Regions from separate parts of the Homo sapiens genome. Here region 1 is linked to region 2. The links come from fine-mapping of genetic effects on gene expression. A gene starts in region 2. The other region holds a variant in brackets. All regions are shown on one strand. Distances are between the middles of the regions.

Region 1 (9,241 bases), 26 kb after region 2:
TTCCCAAGTAGCTGGGACTACAGGTGTATGCCACCATGCCGGGCTGATTTTTAAATTTTTTGTAGAAATGGGGTCTCGCTATGTTGCCCAGGCTGGTCTCAAACTCCTGGGCTCACGAGATCCTCCCACTTTGGGTTTAAATTTTTAAAAAATAATTATAACAATTTACAACATAAGTACTAATCATTTATAGTAATAAACTTAATTTGTAACACTGTAATGCATTGTAATATTAGTTGTTATATTTGATGATATTAGCAATGATAATTCAATTTCTATTATTTAAACGTTCAGCATATTTTATTCTGGCACATTGTAGCCCAATGACCCAACTGTGGTAGTCTCCACTGCATGCCATGTTTATGTAAGTCAAAACAGGTACTTATAATTTATATTAGAGCATAATTTGTAATAGCAATAATCATTTGTAATAACAGCAATAATCTTTGATGCTATTAGTAATGATTATTCAATTTCTACTAGAAACTATAATTTAATTCATGACATAGGTACTCATAATTTACAACAGTAAAAATAATTTATAATATTAGTGATAATTTGTAATATTAGTGATTATATATATATATATATTTTTTTTTTTTTTTTTTGAGATGGAGTTTCGCTCTTGTTGCCCAAGCTGGAGTGTAATAGCGTGATCTTGGCTCACCACAACCTCCGCCTCCCGGGTTCCAGCGATTCCCCTGCCTCAACTTCCCAGGTAGCTGGGATTACAGGCATGCACCACCACGCCGGGCTAATTTTGTATTTTTTTAGTAGAGACAGGGTTTCTCCATGTTGGTCAGGCTGGTCTCAAACTCCCGACCTCAGGTGATCCGCCCACTTCGGCCTCCCGAAGTGTTGGGATTACAGGCATGAGCCACCGCGCCCGGCCAGTGATTATATTTCATAATAGTAACCAAAAGTTCAATTTCTATTAATTAATTAATAGGAGGGAGGCTGAGGTGGGACTCTGTTGCCCAAGCTGGAGTGCAGTGGCGTGATCTCTGGTCACTGCAACCTCCAACTCCCGGGTTCAAGTGATTCTCCTGCCTCAGCCTCCCAAGTAGCTGGGACTACAGGCACGCACCACCATGCCCAGCTAATTTTTGTATTTTTAGTAGAGACGGGGTCTCATTATGTTGACCAGGCTGGTCTTGATCTCCTGACCTCATGATCTGCTCACCTCAGCCTCTCAAAGTGCTGGGATTACAGGCATGAGCCACCGTGCCTTGCCAACAATTTAATTTATAACATTATTATTGATAAATGTTATTGGCAATCCTAATTTGAATATAGGTAAAATTTCTATCAGAAGGAATATTTGATAATGTTAGTAATAATGACTTAATTTCTATATGTAATATATTCTGATTCATTACATTAATTCTGTCAATTCACATTAGAAATAGGTTTTTAATACTGGCAAAAATAGACAACATGAGTAACAGGATCTGATACATATTAGAATGGATCATGATTTAGTTTTCCTTGTAAGCATAAGGAAATTCACGGTAGACCCTATCACAAAGCAACTTCATGACTCCACGTGCACACAGCAGCCACACTCTTGATATCGCACTGCTGATAATATACCAATATTTAATATTATTGCAGTAGTTATGACTCTTCCCTCCTGCCCACTCTATTTTCCCCAAACTCACCATTTCTTTGTGATTGGGGTAGAAGGTCTGATCAATTAGAGGGAATTCTTCTGTCCCCAGTTTCTTATGCAGTCGAACCATCTGGGCAAACTATGAGAACCAGGAGAGCTGGGTCAGTGAGTCCTTCACCACGAATCTGTAAGTTTCTGAACACCCTCACTTCCCCAAATCGCAGACTGGTTTCAAGCTCCCACATACATGCATGAGCTGTTCCCTCTGCCAGTGGCACCCTTCCTGTTACTTACCACCCAGGGCTTGTCACAGAAGTTGTAGACAGAATGCAAGGAGTTAACACTGGGGATTCCAGCATACTGCAGCCCAATGACCAAACTGCGGTAGTCTCCGTTGCGTGCCATGCTGAAGGCGTGCTGGCGGATCAGCACAAAATCCGGCTTCAGAGACCTAGTGTGGCAGGGGTAGGAGTGTTGAGAGTTCCCCCAGAAGCTCCCAATCACTCTCGAAACAAAGACCAAGTTTTTAAATCTCCATAGCTCCCAGAAATTGCAAAGTGGTTTCTCACCTCTGCACACATGTGTGAGCTGTTCCCTCTGCCTAGTGCACCCTTTCTACCCTCTGCCCACCTGGTGATCCCCTTTAAGCCTCTCCTACCTGTTCCCTTCTCAGCAAGGTCAGCTTGCAGCTTACCGACACAGCTCTGACAACTCCCTGGTCACCATCTCTCAGACTGCAAGCTGTCTTCAGTGTTCTGCCCAGAATAAATTCTAACCTTGGGACCTTTACCAAGGCTGTTCCATCTGCCTAAAGCACTTCCCCCCTAGATATCTGCATGGATCACTCCTTCACCTCCATCAGGTCTTTCCTCAAATGTCTCTCCTGCAACCAGGCCACCCTATCCCAACTGCAGACCCCACCATCATCCAACAATTGCTACATCTGCTTTAGTGCTATATATATATTTTTTTCTTTTTTTTTTTTCTGTTGAGACGGACTGTTGCTCTGTTGTCCAGGCGCTGGAGCAATCATGGCTCACTGTAATCTCCGCCTCTCGGGTTCAAGCGATTTCCCTGCCTCAGCCTCCCGAGTAGCTGGGATTACAGGCACCTGCCACCACGCCTGGCTAATTTTTTTATTTTTAGTAGAGACGGGGTTTCACCATGTTGGCCAGGCTGATTTTGAACTCCTGGGCTCAAGCAATCCACCCACCTTGGCCTCCCAAAGTGCTGGGATTATAGGCATGAGCCACCACATCCGGCCACTGTTATGTTTTTTCTTAGCACTTTTACATTTTCTTATTTATTTGTGTATTGTGTGTATCTCACAGTAGAATGTAAGTTTCATAAGGCCCAGGTTCTTTTTCTTTTTTTTTTTTTGGCCTTTCAGCATGTAGAATATCTCCTGGCACACAGTAGGTGTACAATAAATATTTATTGAATATGAAGTCCTGAGAGCAGCATCTGGCATGCAGCAGATGTCTAGCAAATGTTTATTTAATTAATAATTGAAGGCTGGGTGTGGCGGCTCATGCCTGTAATCCCAGCACTTTGAGAGGACAAGGCAGGTAGATTGTTTGAGCCCAGAAGTTTGAGACAAACCTGGGCAACATAGTGAGGACCCCCCCCATCTCTACAAAAAACATAAAAATTAGCTAGGCATGGTGGTGCGCACCTGTAGTCTCAGCTACTTGGGAGGCTGAGGTGGGAGGATCACTTGAGCCTGAGAGGTTGCAGCTGCAGAGAGCCATGATTGTGCCAGTGCACTCCAGCCTGGGAGACAGAGCAAGACCCTGTCTGAAATATATATATATATATATATATTTTTTTTTAAAGTCTGACTTGTGGCATCCTGGGGTCCCTGGCTCTTTTTCTGAAGAAAAGTTGTCTCCCCACATTCCATGCCTAAGTTCTTGCCCACAGAAGGATGGGTGGGGAGGTAGGAACTTTCCCCCAGCTCTAAGGGAGAGTTCTTATGCCTTGCTCATAACACCAAGGTACCCTTCTTATACTCACCGCACGACCTTCACCCCATTCCGAAGAACTTCCATATCCACAGAGAATCCACCATTGGCATGGGCCACAAGGTTGAGATCAGAGAATTCGGCCTGGGAAGGAGAAAAAAACTGGTGATTCACCTACATCACACAAAAATGGCCACTCAGTTTGCAGTATGGACAACTGACCCCCAGGTCCAAATGTCCCAACTTACCTGTTCTACTTTAATGTCAATTTCTCCATGGATCTTTTTCCCTTTGAAGTATTTTGCCCTGGAGAGGAAAAACAACACATCTGTCAATGATGAAATCTCAGAAGGGAAGACAAAACACAGGCCCTTGACCCTTTTGCCCCTTCAATGCTACTAAAGAAACCACAAAGTGCCTTATAATTATTGAAATATTTTGAAAAAATCAAGAGTGCTTTGTGAATAATGTCTGTTGTAATCCTCATGGAGTTGCAAAAATATTAAAGGACATTGCAAACTGTAAAATGTGGCCTTACACTGCAGAGAGCAGGTATTTCCCAAAATTTAGTCTGCTCATCACATTGTCATTGTAAATTTTTTAAAAAAACTTCACAAAATTAGCAGCACTATGTAAATTAGAACATACTTTGAAATTGCATGGAGACCGGTAAACAGCAAAGAACCTTAGAAAACACCTATCTGGCCAGGTACGGTGGCTTACGCCTGTAATCTCAGCACTTTGGGAGGCTGGAGGTAGGAGGATTGCTTCAGGCCAAGGGTTGGAGACCACCCTGGACAATATAGAGAGACCCCCATCTCTACAAAAAAAATTGAAAAAAAAAAAAAAAAAACAAAAGCCGAGGGCTGTGGCTCACGTCTATAATCCCACAACTTTGAGAGGCCAAGGCGGGTGGATCACCTGAGGTCAAGAGTTCGAGACCAGCCTGACCAACATGGTGAAACCCCTTCTCTACTAAAATACAAAATTAGCCAGGTGTAGTGGTGCATGCCTGTATTCCCAGCTACTTGGGAGGCTGAGGCAGGAGAATCACTTGGACCCAGGAGGCGGAAGTTGCAGTGAGCCAAAATGGTGCTATTACACTCCA[G/A]CCTGGGCAACAAGAGCGAGACTCCATCTCCAAAAAACCCAAAAAACAAAAACTAGCCAGGCATAGTGGTGCATGCCTGTAGTCCCAGCTACTGGGGAGGCTGAGGCAGGAGAATGGCTTGAGCCCAGGAGGTCGAGGCTGTAGTGAGCCGTGATTGCACCACTGCACTCCAGCTTGGGGAACAGAGCAAGACCTAGGCAAAAAAGAGAAAGAAATAAAGAGAAAGGAAGGAAGGAAGGAAGGAAGGAAGGAAGGAAGGAAGGAAGGAAGGAAGGAAGGAAGGAAGGAAGGGGAAGGAAGGAAGGGGAAGGAAGGAAGGAAGGAGAGAAAGAAACTACATTTCTCTGAAGCGTGCCTGTTTTTGTGTATTTTTTAGTGCCTGTGTATATGTCAGTGCCTGTGTCTGGCTGTGTGGCCTGAAGCATCTCTCTGCTCTCTGGCCCTTTCGCAAGGAGGAGCACATTCACCATGTGTGGTTGTGTGCTGTGAGAAACACAATGGCCATAGGTGGGCAGCTGCATCCGATAAGGAGGAGTGGATTGAGTGGTGCAGGCTGGGTGGCTCTAGAGAAGCCAGTGTAGCTGGCAATGATGGGGGGCAGGGAGGAATGCAGCTGAGGAGGAGAGGGAGCAACAGGAGGGAGGGGGAGTGGGAGCAGCAGTAGGAACATCACGAACTGCTATGTCATTGTCCCCGGGCCCGTCCCCAGCTGGGCTTGGTTTCCGGTGGCCTCCTCCCCCAGGCTCAAGATTTCTAGCCAACAGGCTGCTTGCTCCAGGGATGGAAGCTCATCCTCAATCAGGTTTATCATGGAAGGGGGATGAGGGGGAGAGACACTTTCAGGGCTACTGGTCACTGACACACATACAATCAGGGTCTTGGACAGACACACACACACACACACACACACACACACACACACGGCACAAATGGACCCTGGTGACTTGACTGACATATGCAAGAGACCCCAAGTACAGCTACTTCTTTTTCCTTGCTCTCTCTCTGACACACACACACACACACACACACACACACACACCATCGCTGACACTATCCCCTCAGAAGTGTTGAGAGAGAATCTCTCTCAGCCCTGCACATTTTTCATCTATAAACTGATGAGTGGGGATGATGAGGGTGTATCACTGTTTCTAAAACTTTTCTGACCATAAGTGTAGTTGGATACTGTGGTGGTCTGCTCAGGCCTCCTCTTCAGGGACAATGTACCTTGAATGGCAGCTACTGACAGCTCATGGCTGTGTCCCCACTGGGAATTGTCTTGTCACAGGGAACTGCCTTGTCCAAGGTTACACCTACTTCATGAGGGCATCCCCATGGTCTGGTCTATGAAGGGAAAGAAAGGCCAGCCTCCTTGCCTCAATCTGGGCTGACTCTGAAGGACCCTCCCAGCCCCAGGGCTCCCCCTAAGAGCAGCGGAGGCCCCTAAGGCAACTACATCTTGAGCCAGCCTCTTCCTCTGCTCAACCCAACCCTCCTCACAAGTGTTGATCCCAATGGCACACTCCAGTAAGCCTCCTGCATGCAAATCTCCACCTCAAAGTCTTTTTCCAGGGAACCCAACCTAAAACAGTGGGCCATGGAAGTCAAACTACAAGGGTGGTCTAATGCAATTCTGGAGCTGGGTTACCCAGCAGCCAGATGGCAGTGAGGACCCATCAGTAGTGGGAGGTGGGGCATAGATAGCCTCCGATATGCTGTAGCAACGCAAAGTGCTCTGCAGCAGGTCCGGGCTGTGGTGCAAGCAGGATGTGACTTAGGCCATATGATCCAGCAGATCCTATGACACTGGAGGTGTCAGTAGTAGGAAAAGATGCTGTGTGGAATTTCTTCTCCCAGGTGGGAGAATACAGCGCAGGCCCCCAGGGTTTTGGAGTAGCGGTGACTTTTCCTGATGGTGGGCTGTAATGGGATTCTGGTGGAAGGGAATGTACTGGATGGTGAAATATCCCTGGAACTTGAGTGATGTCAGGGAAATGGTAACCAGACTTGGGTGACTATTCCCTAAACGCCATTGAGTAGCTGAAGAAAGACCTGACATGCTCAGGGTGAATTCAAGGCAAAATGTGAAAGCCAGAGGATCTCCCTGACTGCATTTAAGGAAACCCTCATCTCCTGCAGTCAGAGGGCAGACAGAAGGGAGGGCCAGGCTCAGAATTTAATTCTACGTGGTGGCGGAGCTTCGGAGAAAGTTGACTTCTCAGGCCCAGCACATCTCCTGGGCCATGCTCATGTCCCTAATAGGACAGGAGTAGGACTCTGAGATGGGGATATCTGGGCAGATGCAGTTAAACACCTTGAACTTACAGACTCACCTGCATCCACTGGGCCTGCTGAAGTAGACTACTCCCCTGAGTTAGAATATAGACCTTCTGCTTGAAGATAATGCAGAGGCCTCGGATGATGCAGGTGCTTTGTAAGACAATGCCTGCCCCCCTCAGAGTCTACCCCCCACCTACCCTCCTGGAAACCAGACCAAAAATTAGGGTGAAATCCTAGTGAAACCTGACTGGACAGGTTCTAGGCTTGCAAAGGGAGAGAAATGATCTGTAGAAGAACCTAAAGAATCTGGCTAGTACGTATTGGCAGGAGCTGGGAAGGTATGCATGAGACTGGATCCTGAGGACAATGGGCGAAGGAGGTAGAACAGGAAGTTGGTGTGCTCTCCCAGGATACGGAACTTAAAACCCTGGCGAGGACTCTAGGAAGTGTTACTAACACACTGGTATTTGGAAACCTGGAGTAAACAATGGCCCACACTAAGTGAAGCAGAACTTCCATGGCAGATTGCACAGGGAAGGATTAAAGGGCTCAAAGAAGCAGACATGTTGGAGTAGATATACTACTGAAGTCTGGAAAACCCACCAGCTGATTAAGGCCTGGAGGATACACTCAACTTATGAAATTAATAAGAAACATGCTGGTGAGGGTGGTACCAGTCACGCTGAGAAGCACAGTAGTGGTAAGGTGATAAATGAGTCCTGGCCCAGGTCCTGCTTACAGTGGGTCTGGTGGGTCTAGAGACCCACCCAGTGGTCACTTCCTCAGTTCACAAATGCGTAATTGCAATGGCATACTTTGTAGTTGTCAGAACCCCTACATGGGCTCCTCAGCCTGTGGGATAAGAGCTGTTTCAGTAGGGAAGTCCAAATAGAAGCTTCTAAAATGGCGCACACCCCCATGCCCTGAACAAAACAATAAACCACAAACAATATTGTGTGCATCCTATGGGTGATGATGGAAATCAATGCCACATTGAAAGATCTAAAGGATGCAGGGGTGTTGGTCTCATCTTATCTCCATCGAGTTGAGCAGTCTGGCCCCTGGAGAGGTCAGATGGGTCCTGGAGAATGCTTGCAGATTACTGCAAGCACAATCAAGTAGTACCCTTAGTTATACCTGCCATACTGGACACGCTGTCATTGCCAGAGCAGATTAATAAGACCTCAGGTACAGCAGGTGGCTGCTGACTTGGCAAATGCATTCTTTTTTATTCTGATTAGAAAAAAGGATCAGAAACAGTTTACACTCACATGAGACTGATGATAATATTCATAGATGGTCTTGCTGTAGGGCTATGCTATCTCTCTCACCTGGTGTCATAATATAGTCCAGAGAAACCTGGACTATCTGGACATCCCATGGAATAGCACACTGGACCACCACATGGATTACATCATACTGATTGTGCAAGATGAGCAAGAGAGGGTGAGCATATTGCCCTGGTAAGACACATCCACTACAGAGGGTGGAGGATAAACTCCACAAAGACTCAGGGGACCGATGCATTAGTAAAATTTTTAGGAATCCAGTGGTCCAGGGCAGTAAACCAGGACAGCCCCTCCAAAGAATAGAGCAAAGCATTGAATCACGCACCTTCCACCATGAAGAGGAAAGCACAATACCTAGGAGGCCTCTTCCCATTCTGGAGGCAGCATGTCCCCCACACACAAATAATGCTCTGACCCATATTCCAGGCGACATGTAAAGCTACCAGCTTTGTGTGAGGGCCAGAGCAGAAAAGGGCTCTGCAGCAGGTCCAGGCTGTGGTACAAGCAGTCCTGCCATTTAGGCCAGATGATCTGGCAGATCTTATGATACTGGAGGTGTCAGTAGTGGGGAAAGATGCAGTGAGGAGCTTATGGGAAGCCTGAGTGGGAGGCCCTTGGGGTTCTGGAGCAAAGCCATGCCATCTGCAGCAGAGAATTTTACGCCTTTTGAGAAAGACACCCCATTGAGGTGCTGGGCCCTGATAGAGACAGAATGCTTGACCAGGCACCAAATGATTGTGCATCCAGAAGTTCCCATTATAAGCTGGGTCCTGCTGGGCCCGCCAAATAATAAAGTCAGGTGGGCCCAGCAGTCAGGATTGAGCCCAAGCAGAACCAAGCAAGGTGCATGAGCAGGTAAGTAACCCTGATCCCCATGTCTTCCACACTGTTGTGCTAGTGCCTGTCTCACTAAGGGGACTCCTTAAAACTAGCTGATGAAAGAGGGAAAGGTCTAAGCTTGGTTCACAAATTGGTTGTCTTAGTATGTGGG
Region 2 (8,615 bases):
AATAACAGGACACACAAAATTGGCTGAATGCAGGAGGAAAAAGGGGTCGATGAGGTCAGCTGAATGTGAGAAAACAAAAATCTATTAGGTTGGTGCAAAAGTAATTGTGGTTTTTACCATAAGAACTGGCAAAACCCGCAATTACTTTTGCACCAACCTGATAGATAACGACACCCCAGGAGACGCGATCACACAGAATGACTGGTGTGCATTGCACAAATACACATCTACCTATGCACAGCCCAGCCAGAGACTCACCTTGCCCATCCCAGAGTGTGCGTGCCCCATCTTCACAACCACGGGGTACGTTGTACTGCTGAGCTGGTGGGGAAAAGGCAGAGGAGACATGCTCAGGGCAGAAAGGGTGACCTCCAGGGGTGGGGCGGCACTGAGGGGATCCCAGCCAGTGGGAACTGCATTATGAGTCACTTCCCAGGACACACAGGTCAGAGACAGGCAGGCAGCAGCTGGGGGTCACACAGTGTCTCCACCTCCGGGCCCAGAATTGAACCCAGAGCCCTGTCTGTCTGTCCCTCACTCCACCCCACCAACAAGTTCCAGACGTCCCGCCCCTGCTTTCCCGGGCAGAGGCATGGTATGAGCGTGGGGGACTGTTCCAGTAAAAAGAAAGTTTGTTTTTACAGTGGATGGATGATAGTGAGGCAAGTGTGTGCCAGTGCGTGTGTGTGGGGGTGGGGGGGGTGGGGAGTGGTGGTGAGCATGTAGTGACTGAACCCCTCAGCCAAACCTTGTATGTAAGCCTCACCTGCACACATAAACTATTGAGAGGCATGAGCCCTTGGAACTCAGATGTACATCGCCAAACCCAGAGATGCCAGTGACATTGAGACTGACAGCCAACACAGGCTCAAAGCACATGAGCTCTGGAGCAGCACAGACACCCACACAGTCATTCAGCCAGCCAGGTGCCCATAGCGTGGGTCAGCAGCCAGCACTCCAGGGCAGCACACACTGGACACCCTTAGGCACACAATCAATACTTGGGCACACACCCAGGTTCCCTCCCCTCACCCAAACCCACATCACCATCAGGGGAACACACACAACACAAAAGATTACCCGTCCAATCAAGAGACACACAACTCCACAGGCACACTCCACAGAACCGGGCACATACTCAACACACAGGCACACATAAAACACCCCTAGGCAAATGCACAGCAAATAAGGCCCTACACAACACACAGAGGTGTATGCACTTCTAGGTATTCACATCACCACTGGGACCCGTAAGAGACCCACGCCACATTCCTGGGCATACAAAAAGTATATCTAGACACACACACAACATGCCTTGCCACATATACAATACAGAGAGGCTACACACAACCAGAGACACCCACAACTCAGTTTGCAGAAAACATTCCTGGGCACTCCCACCCCAACACACATACAGTCACACATTCAGGCGAGAGGGATACCTCAAGTCTCCCCCGCTCCTGGATGGGGTAGAGGAAACCAGGTTGGACGGCCCTAGGCTCCCCGCTCCCTCCACCCCCACCCCCACAGCACAGCTGCACAGTGCCCCTCTGGTGGCCCTCCCTCTCGCTGACAAGGTAGAGAGATGGCATTCCCGGAGGGGCTGCTGGGGCGGTGGTGGTTCCCAGTTCCCGACAGGCACAGGAAGCCCGCAGACTCAGGGTGACCGATTGACCTTAAGGCCTCCCTCTGCACACCCCCCCTTCCTCATTTCCCAAATGACTGGCGTCATTATGAGGTGGGCTGAGAGGCACGATGTTGGGACGGGGGTTTGGGGCATCTCTGGGCAGCGGGCCAGGGAAACGATGCCGAGGCGGATGCATACAGTACCACCCAGGTGTGCGCACAGCACACAGAAGTGCATAATGCACTCAGTTACATATGCAACCCAGATCCGCTTTGCCGAGGCTGGTAGACAACTCCCAGAAGTAACACACAAAACACACAGGCACATGCTCGACTCTTAGCAATGGACACACAACACACCAGAGAGCTGTGCGTACACACCCATACCTCCCCCAACAACCCTGAGGTTTCTAGGTGCCTCTTTTCGTTAACTGTCCTTGTTTTCTCTGGACTTGAGCCTGAACACAACGCTCTGTATATGTGTGTGTGCCCATACATGTGTGCATGCAGAGTGCTTTGAACTCTGACTCTGGGAGCTCCTGGAAAGCCCTAGGTCTGAATTTTGGCCTTTCTTCTTCCTAAGGCCATGAAGGACACAACCTCTCCCTGAGCCTCAGTTTCCCCATCTGCACAAAGAGCACAATGAGGCCCAAGCACCTGGTATGCTGTGGGCATTGTCAGGTGTCCGCTTTGCACATGCCTCCTGGACCCCCATGGGCCCCCACACCCATCCAGCTCCCCAGATGGTCACACACCCCTCCATGAACACCCCTCCCACTCTCCATTTCAAAACTGCACAATAACCGGATCCACACGACTCCTCATGTAAACAGTCGGCAACACTCTGTGCTGACTCAGGTTTCAAAGAGTTGGCGTCAGAACCAGAGTCAGCGAGGGGCCAAGGCAGGACTTCCCCTGCCCTCACTTCTCCCTCGGAGGCACCAGGTTACTCAGCCCCGTCTCATTCACTCTCACTGTCCCACTTTCATAATCAGCTCCTACAGATTTTTTTGGTTTACTTCCCTTCCTCCCTGTTTTTGTCGCCCCCCCACCCTCCCCCCACCACCCCGCAGCAGAGCCATTTCTTCATTCTCATTCCTGGGTAGGTCACTCAGCCCTTTTGTGTCTAAGTTTCCTCATCTGTATAATGAGAACATGAGCTATATCTAACTCACAGGGATATTGTGAGAAATAAGTTAGTTATTTTGGGAAAAATGCTCTACATGGTATCGGGCATACAGTAAGCCTCGATCCTCAAGAAGTGTTGGGTACTCTTATTATTGGCTTAACATCTCTTCCTTAACTAACATTAATGAACAAAGAGGCAATCGGGATTGATTAAATGAGATAATGTCTGTAAAAAGACTTTAGAACAGTGCTTTTTTTTTTTTTTTTAAATAGAGACAGGGTTTCACCATGTTGCCCAGACTGGTCTTGAACTCCTGAGCTCAAGCGATCTGCCTGCCTCAGCCTCCCAAAGTGCTGGGATTACAGGTGTGAGCCACCATGCCCGGCCAAGTGCTTTCTTAAAAAATAGATTTAGGCTGGGTGCCGTAGCTCACGCATGTAATCGCAGCACTTTGGGAGGCTGAGGTGGGCGGATCACCCGAGGTCAGGAGTTTGAGACCAGCCTGGCCAACATGGTGAAACCCCGTCTCTACTAAAAATACAAAAATTAGCCAGGCGTGGTGGCGTGTGCCTGTAACCCCAGCTACTGAGGAGGCTGAGGCAGGAGAATTGCTTGAACCCAGGAGGTGGAGGTTGCAGTGAGCCAAGATCTTGCCATTGCACTCCAGCCTGGGAAACAAGATCGAAACTCTGTCTAAAAAAAAAAAAAAGATTTAGAAGGCCGGGTGTGGTGGCTCACGCCTGTAATCCCAACACTTTGGGAGGTCGAGGCAGGTGGATCACCTGAAGTCAGGAGTTCGAGATCTGACCAATATGGTGAAACCCCCGTCTCTACTAAAACTACAAAAATTAGCTGGGGGTGGTGGTGGTGTGGCTGTAATCCCAGCTACTCAGGAGGCTGAGACAGGAGAATCTCTTGAACCCCGGAGGCGGAGGTTGCAGTGAGCTGAGATCGCGCCACTGCACTCCAGCCTAGGTGACAGAGCAAGACTCTTGTCAAAAAAAAAAAATAGATTTAGAGGGTACAGCTGCAGTTTTGTGACATGGATATATTACATAGTGGTGAAGTCTGGGCTTTTAGTGTCCCCATCAACCAAATAGTGTACATTGTACCCATTAGGCAATTTCTCATCCCTCACATTCCTCCCACCCAGAATAGTGCTGGATACGCAGTAAGCACTCCATAAGGGCTGCTGGTAGTTTTTGTTGTGTTCTTGTTATTGGGCTATCATCCCTGAGTTAATCAAACTTAATTAGCAAGGGAGTATGGTGAGTGAATGAGATAATTTATACAAACACTTTAGCACATAGTACACAGAAAGTGCTCAATAAGTGGCTGCCATCATCACTACAATTATTATTATTGATCTATCCTCCTCGAATTAAGGATGTTAATCAGAACCCCAGGGAAGGTTCCTGCATTGTCAGAAAGCTGGTGGGCAAGGATTGCCCCACCCCACCCCCCACCAGGGGTACAGGTCCATGGGGAGGGGGCAGGGCAGGATGGGGTGGGGATTAGTTTTCTACTGACCCACTCACTTGCTTCTTTCACCATCATTCATGGCCACCCCCTTCCCAATGCTCATTCATTCACCCGCACCATTCCCTGCTTGCTAGGACGGTGCCACTCCTGAGTTACAACCCTGGTGCCAGGTAGCCTCTGTTTGAATCCCGGCCATGCCCTGTGATCTTAGGAAAATTCTACAGTTCCTCTACGCCCCATATTTCCTCATCCGTAAAACGGGAATAAGAACCGGTACCCATCTCAGAGATTTGTTGTGAGCTTTGAGTGAGATAAACTATGCTGAGTGCCTGGTATACAGTAGGTGCTGTATAAATGCCGGCTATTTGCCTGTGTTATTTGAGACCCTGGCTTTGGCTCCTGGCCACCTGAGTTCCAGTCTCAGTTCTGCCATGTATTGACTCTGTGATCCTGGGTAAGTCACTTAACCACTCCGTGCCTCAGTTTCCCCATTTTGTATTCCTCCCCTTTCACCTGCCTTATCTCCCTCCACTGCTGCTACTTAATTTGTTTCCTCTCTGCCACCCCTCACCAGCATGTCAGACATACAAAACAAGGGATTTTTGTGTGCTTGGCACACAGTAGATGCACAATAAATGTTGAAGGGCTGAACTAATTTGGGTTTGAGTCATAGGGAGCTTGGGGGATGTGGGTGATTGGATAGATTCTGGAGACTTTAGGGGACTGGGCCGGGGGAAATGCGGCCTCTAAGCTCTCCGCTGAGGCGGCTTGGAAGGAATAGTGACTGACGTGGAGGTGGGGGAGGTGGCTGGCCCGGGCGAGGCCCAGGGAGAGGGAGAGGAGGCGGGTGGGAGAGGAGGAGGGTGTATCTCCTTTCGTCGGCCCGCCCCTTGGCTTCTGCACTGATGGTGGGTGGATGAGTAATGCATCCAGGAAGCCTGGAGGCCTGTGGTTTCCGCACCCGCTGCCACCCCCGCCCCTAGCGTGGACATTTATCCTCTAGCGCTCAGGCCCTGCCGCCATCGCCGCAGATCCAGCGCCCAGAGAGACACCAGAGGTAAGCAGGGCCCGGGGTGGCCCAGCAGGGACCGGAGCTGGGCTGCAGCTTGGGTGCTGGCCACCAGGCCCGTGCACTCCCGTGCCAGATGCCTGTCTACTCAGCTTGGCCTGCGGGTACCAGGACCCTGGGCTAGTCTAGGGGGAAGAGGGTCGGAGGCTGGAACTGCTTTCCCAACCCCGAGGCTCCAAACTCCCTAGAACCCCTGACATCCGCCCCCAATTCCCCCAAACCCATGACCCCCTAATATCACAAATGCTTTCCAAATCCCCCCGCAAATTCCTTCATCCCGAAATTTCCCTCATCGCCCCCTAAATACCCACCGCTAACCCCTGCAGCTCCCTAAACTCCCCCAGCTCCCCAATCCCCAGTTCCCCAGCTCCCAAACTTCTTTTGCCCTCAAATTCCTCAAGTATCCCCATTGCCTTAAGCCCCCAAATTCCCCCAACCCCTTCAACCTCCAAACTCCCCCAGCTCCCTAAACCCCCAACCTCCTCCAAATTCCTCAACCTCCCTAAATTCCCCCAGCCTCTTATATCTCTTAATATACACAACCCCTAAACTCTGCCGTCTCCAAACTCCTCCAGCCCCCAATCCCAAATTCCTCACCCCCAAACTCCTCAACCTCCAGAATTCCCCAATCCCCTCATTCCTCAAACTTCCTCAGCCCCCTTCTCCCCCAAGTGCCACAACCCCATAACCCCGCAACTCACTCAGTCCCTCAATAATTTAAACTCTCCCAACTCTCTAAACCCTAAATTCCTCTGCGCTCCCCAATCCCCTTAAAATCCCTAAGCTTACCAACCCCTCAAGCCCAAATCCAGCCCCCTAATCCCCCCCATAGGCTGCCCCGGGGCAAGATGGGGTGGATGACCTGCCCAGGTCAGCAGATCAGCTGGGCCGGGGCCTGCCTGACATCCCCCTTCCCCACAGAACCCACCATGGCCCCCTTTGAGCCCCTGGCTTCTGGCATCCTGTTGTTGCTGTGGCTGATAGCCCCCAGCAGGGCCTGCACCTGTGTCCCACCCCACCCACAGACGGCCTTCTGCAATTCCGACCTCGGTGAGTCCTCACCCCACTCAGCCCACACACTCTGCCTTGGTTTCCCTTTCAGTCCAGTGGGGCTCACCATGGCACTTACCTCTAGAATGATTCCACTCGCCCCTGCACTTCCTCTGCTTTAGCCACACTGGCATCCTCACACTTCCTTGAGTACTCTGTGCCCAAGCCCACCACAGGATCTGCATGCTGGCTGCTCCCTCTGCCTGGTACACTTTCCCCCCAGGTATCCACATGGGTGGCTGCCTCAAACGTCACCTTCTCAGGATGGCCTTCCCTGGCCATCCTGTTTAAAATTTTAACCCCTGCCCCTTAGTACTCCTGATCTCCTGTTAAACAGAAAAATATTCAGTGATACTTGTTATAACACAGTAAGGAAGACCATATTCAGGACCATGGTGATGGGTATAGGAACCACTGCAATGGGATCTTGCAGTCGGTGGGAGAGATTGGGCTCAACACTGAATATAGCATGGGCCAGTGGGAATGTGTAGCTAAGGAGCAGTGTGAGGGTCTGTGGGTGGAAATTACTAAGAAGAAACATCAGGGGTAAGGGGGATTCTGGCTAAACCGACGTAACAGGATTCTTGCTGAAGGCAGGCCAAGGGGAATCAGACATCACCTGGGGGATGGTGGAAGATGAAGAACCCAGTCAGATAGCAAGGATGATCAGGTATTGAGGATGATCAGAGATTGAGGATGATCAGAGATTGAGGATGATCAGGTATTGAGGATGATCAGAGATTGAGGATGATCAGGTATTGAGGATGATCAGAGATTGAGGATGATCAGGTATTGAGGATGATCAGAGATTGAGGATGATCAGATATAGAATATAGGGGTTCTTGCTAAACTGACTTAGCAAGGCTCTCGGCTAAAACTGGATTTTACAAGGAAGTGCACAGATGGGCCTAGGAGGAGGTTCAGGAGCCTGAGTAAAGTTTGGTCAAGCAAAGAATCTTTGTCAGCCCCTTACCCAGGTCTGTAATTCCCCATTATACTTAATGTCTAACATTCCATATCCTTATTTTGTTTGTTCTTAGCCTGTCTCCTCCTGGCTAGAATGTGAACTCCACAAGGAAAGGGATTTCTGTGTTTTGTTCACTGTTGTGTCCCTAACACCCAGAACAATGTCTGGCACACAGTGGGCACTCCCAAATATTTGAGGAGTAAATGAACAAATCAATGTATGAAAATGGCTTAAGCAGTGCCCGGCAAAGAGAGACACTCAACATACAGATGAATCAATGAACAAATGTGTAAATCACTTTGTGTGCTGTCTGGCATCCAATAACCCCTATTTATGTATGCGCTTTGCTGGTATGATGATGATGATGATGATGATCTTATTTTTATTGGCTCATGCAGTCCATTTGACTCATATTTCCCTCCTCTCCTGCAGTCATCAGGGCCAAGTTCGTGGGGACACCAGAAGTCAACCAGACCACCTTATACCAGCGTTATGAGATCAAGATGACCAAGGTATCCCCTGCCCCCGCCTCTTTCCCAGCATTTTCTAACATCTTCCTCCTGGTCAAAACAGAAACTTCTGGCCACTGGTTGGTGCGAGAAAGTTGGCTGTGATCTTGGGATGCTATATGACTTCAGGGAAGAACCTGGAGTGGGAGGATTATGTCAGTAAAAGAGACACTTCCCCTCATCCATCAACAGATGTATAAAGGGTTCCAAGCCTTAGGGGATGCCGCTGACATCCGGTTCGTCTACACCCCCGCCATGGAGAGTGTCTGCGGATACTTCCACAGGTCCCACAACCGCAGCGAGGAGTTTCTCATTGCTGGTGAGGCACCGTCCCCGCGCCCTGTGCCACACCAACCAGTCCCTGGGGCGCGGCCTAGCAACCACGAGGGGGCGAGGCTCTGATGGGAATGGTCCCACTGGAAATGGGGACCACCCCAATTTCAGTCTATCAGAAGGCCGGGCCTTTGGCAGCTTGGCAGCTCAGCCAATCACAAGCTGCTTGTCGGTCCCCGCCCCGCCTTTCTCCTTAGGAAAACTGCAGGATGGACTCTTGCACATCACTACCTGCAGTTTTGTGGCTCCCTGGAACAGCCTGAGCTTAGCTCAGCGCCGGGGCTTCACCAAGACCTACACTGTTGGCTGTGAGGAATGCACAGTGAGTGCCTGGACCCTGACCTCCAACGGGAGATCCTTCCCGGGGCCATTCCCTAAATCGTGGGCTTGTTTCTTGCTCCCTCTGGCTATTCTGTGTCCCTGTGGCTGCTCCCCAACCCTAAGGGCTGT

Alleles and levels. Positions count from the first base shown, and alleles are read on the strand shown. Sizes are in standard deviations (SD) of each study's normalised expression.
For the expression in whole blood of the gene that starts at base 5,256 in region 2, A is the high allele of the variant in region 1 and G is the other (small effect, 0.17 SD a copy in GTEx).

Evidence for each region.
Region 1: its variant is fine-mapped to the expression of TIMP1 in whole blood (TOPMed, PIP above 0.99).

The regions. Positions count from the first base shown.
Region 1 is chrX:47,603,317-47,612,557 of GRCh38, forward strand. SYN1 (synapsin I) reads right to left here. Exons shown (of 13, transcript NM_006950.3): 2 at 3,825-3,882; 3 at 3,629-3,720; 4 at 1,907-2,063; 5 at 1,662-1,751. Among named protein-coding and RNA genes, the nearest start is that of SYN1, 12 kb to the right of the region's middle. The variant G/A (reference allele first, on the strand shown) is at 4,685.
Region 2 is chrX:47,577,181-47,585,795 of GRCh38, forward strand. TIMP1 (TIMP metallopeptidase inhibitor 1) reads left to right here and starts at 5,256. Exons shown (of 6, transcript NM_003254.3): 1 at 5,256-5,294; 2 at 6,228-6,356; 3 at 7,756-7,835; 4 at 8,025-8,151; 5 at 8,363-8,487. The coding sequence starts at 6,236. SYN1 (synapsin I) reads right to left here. Exons shown (of 13, transcript NM_006950.3): 6 at 259-321. RefSeq lists an enhancer at 270-564, a cis regulatory region at 2,266-2,786 and silencers at 2,400-2,573, 4,904-5,053, 5,114-5,213.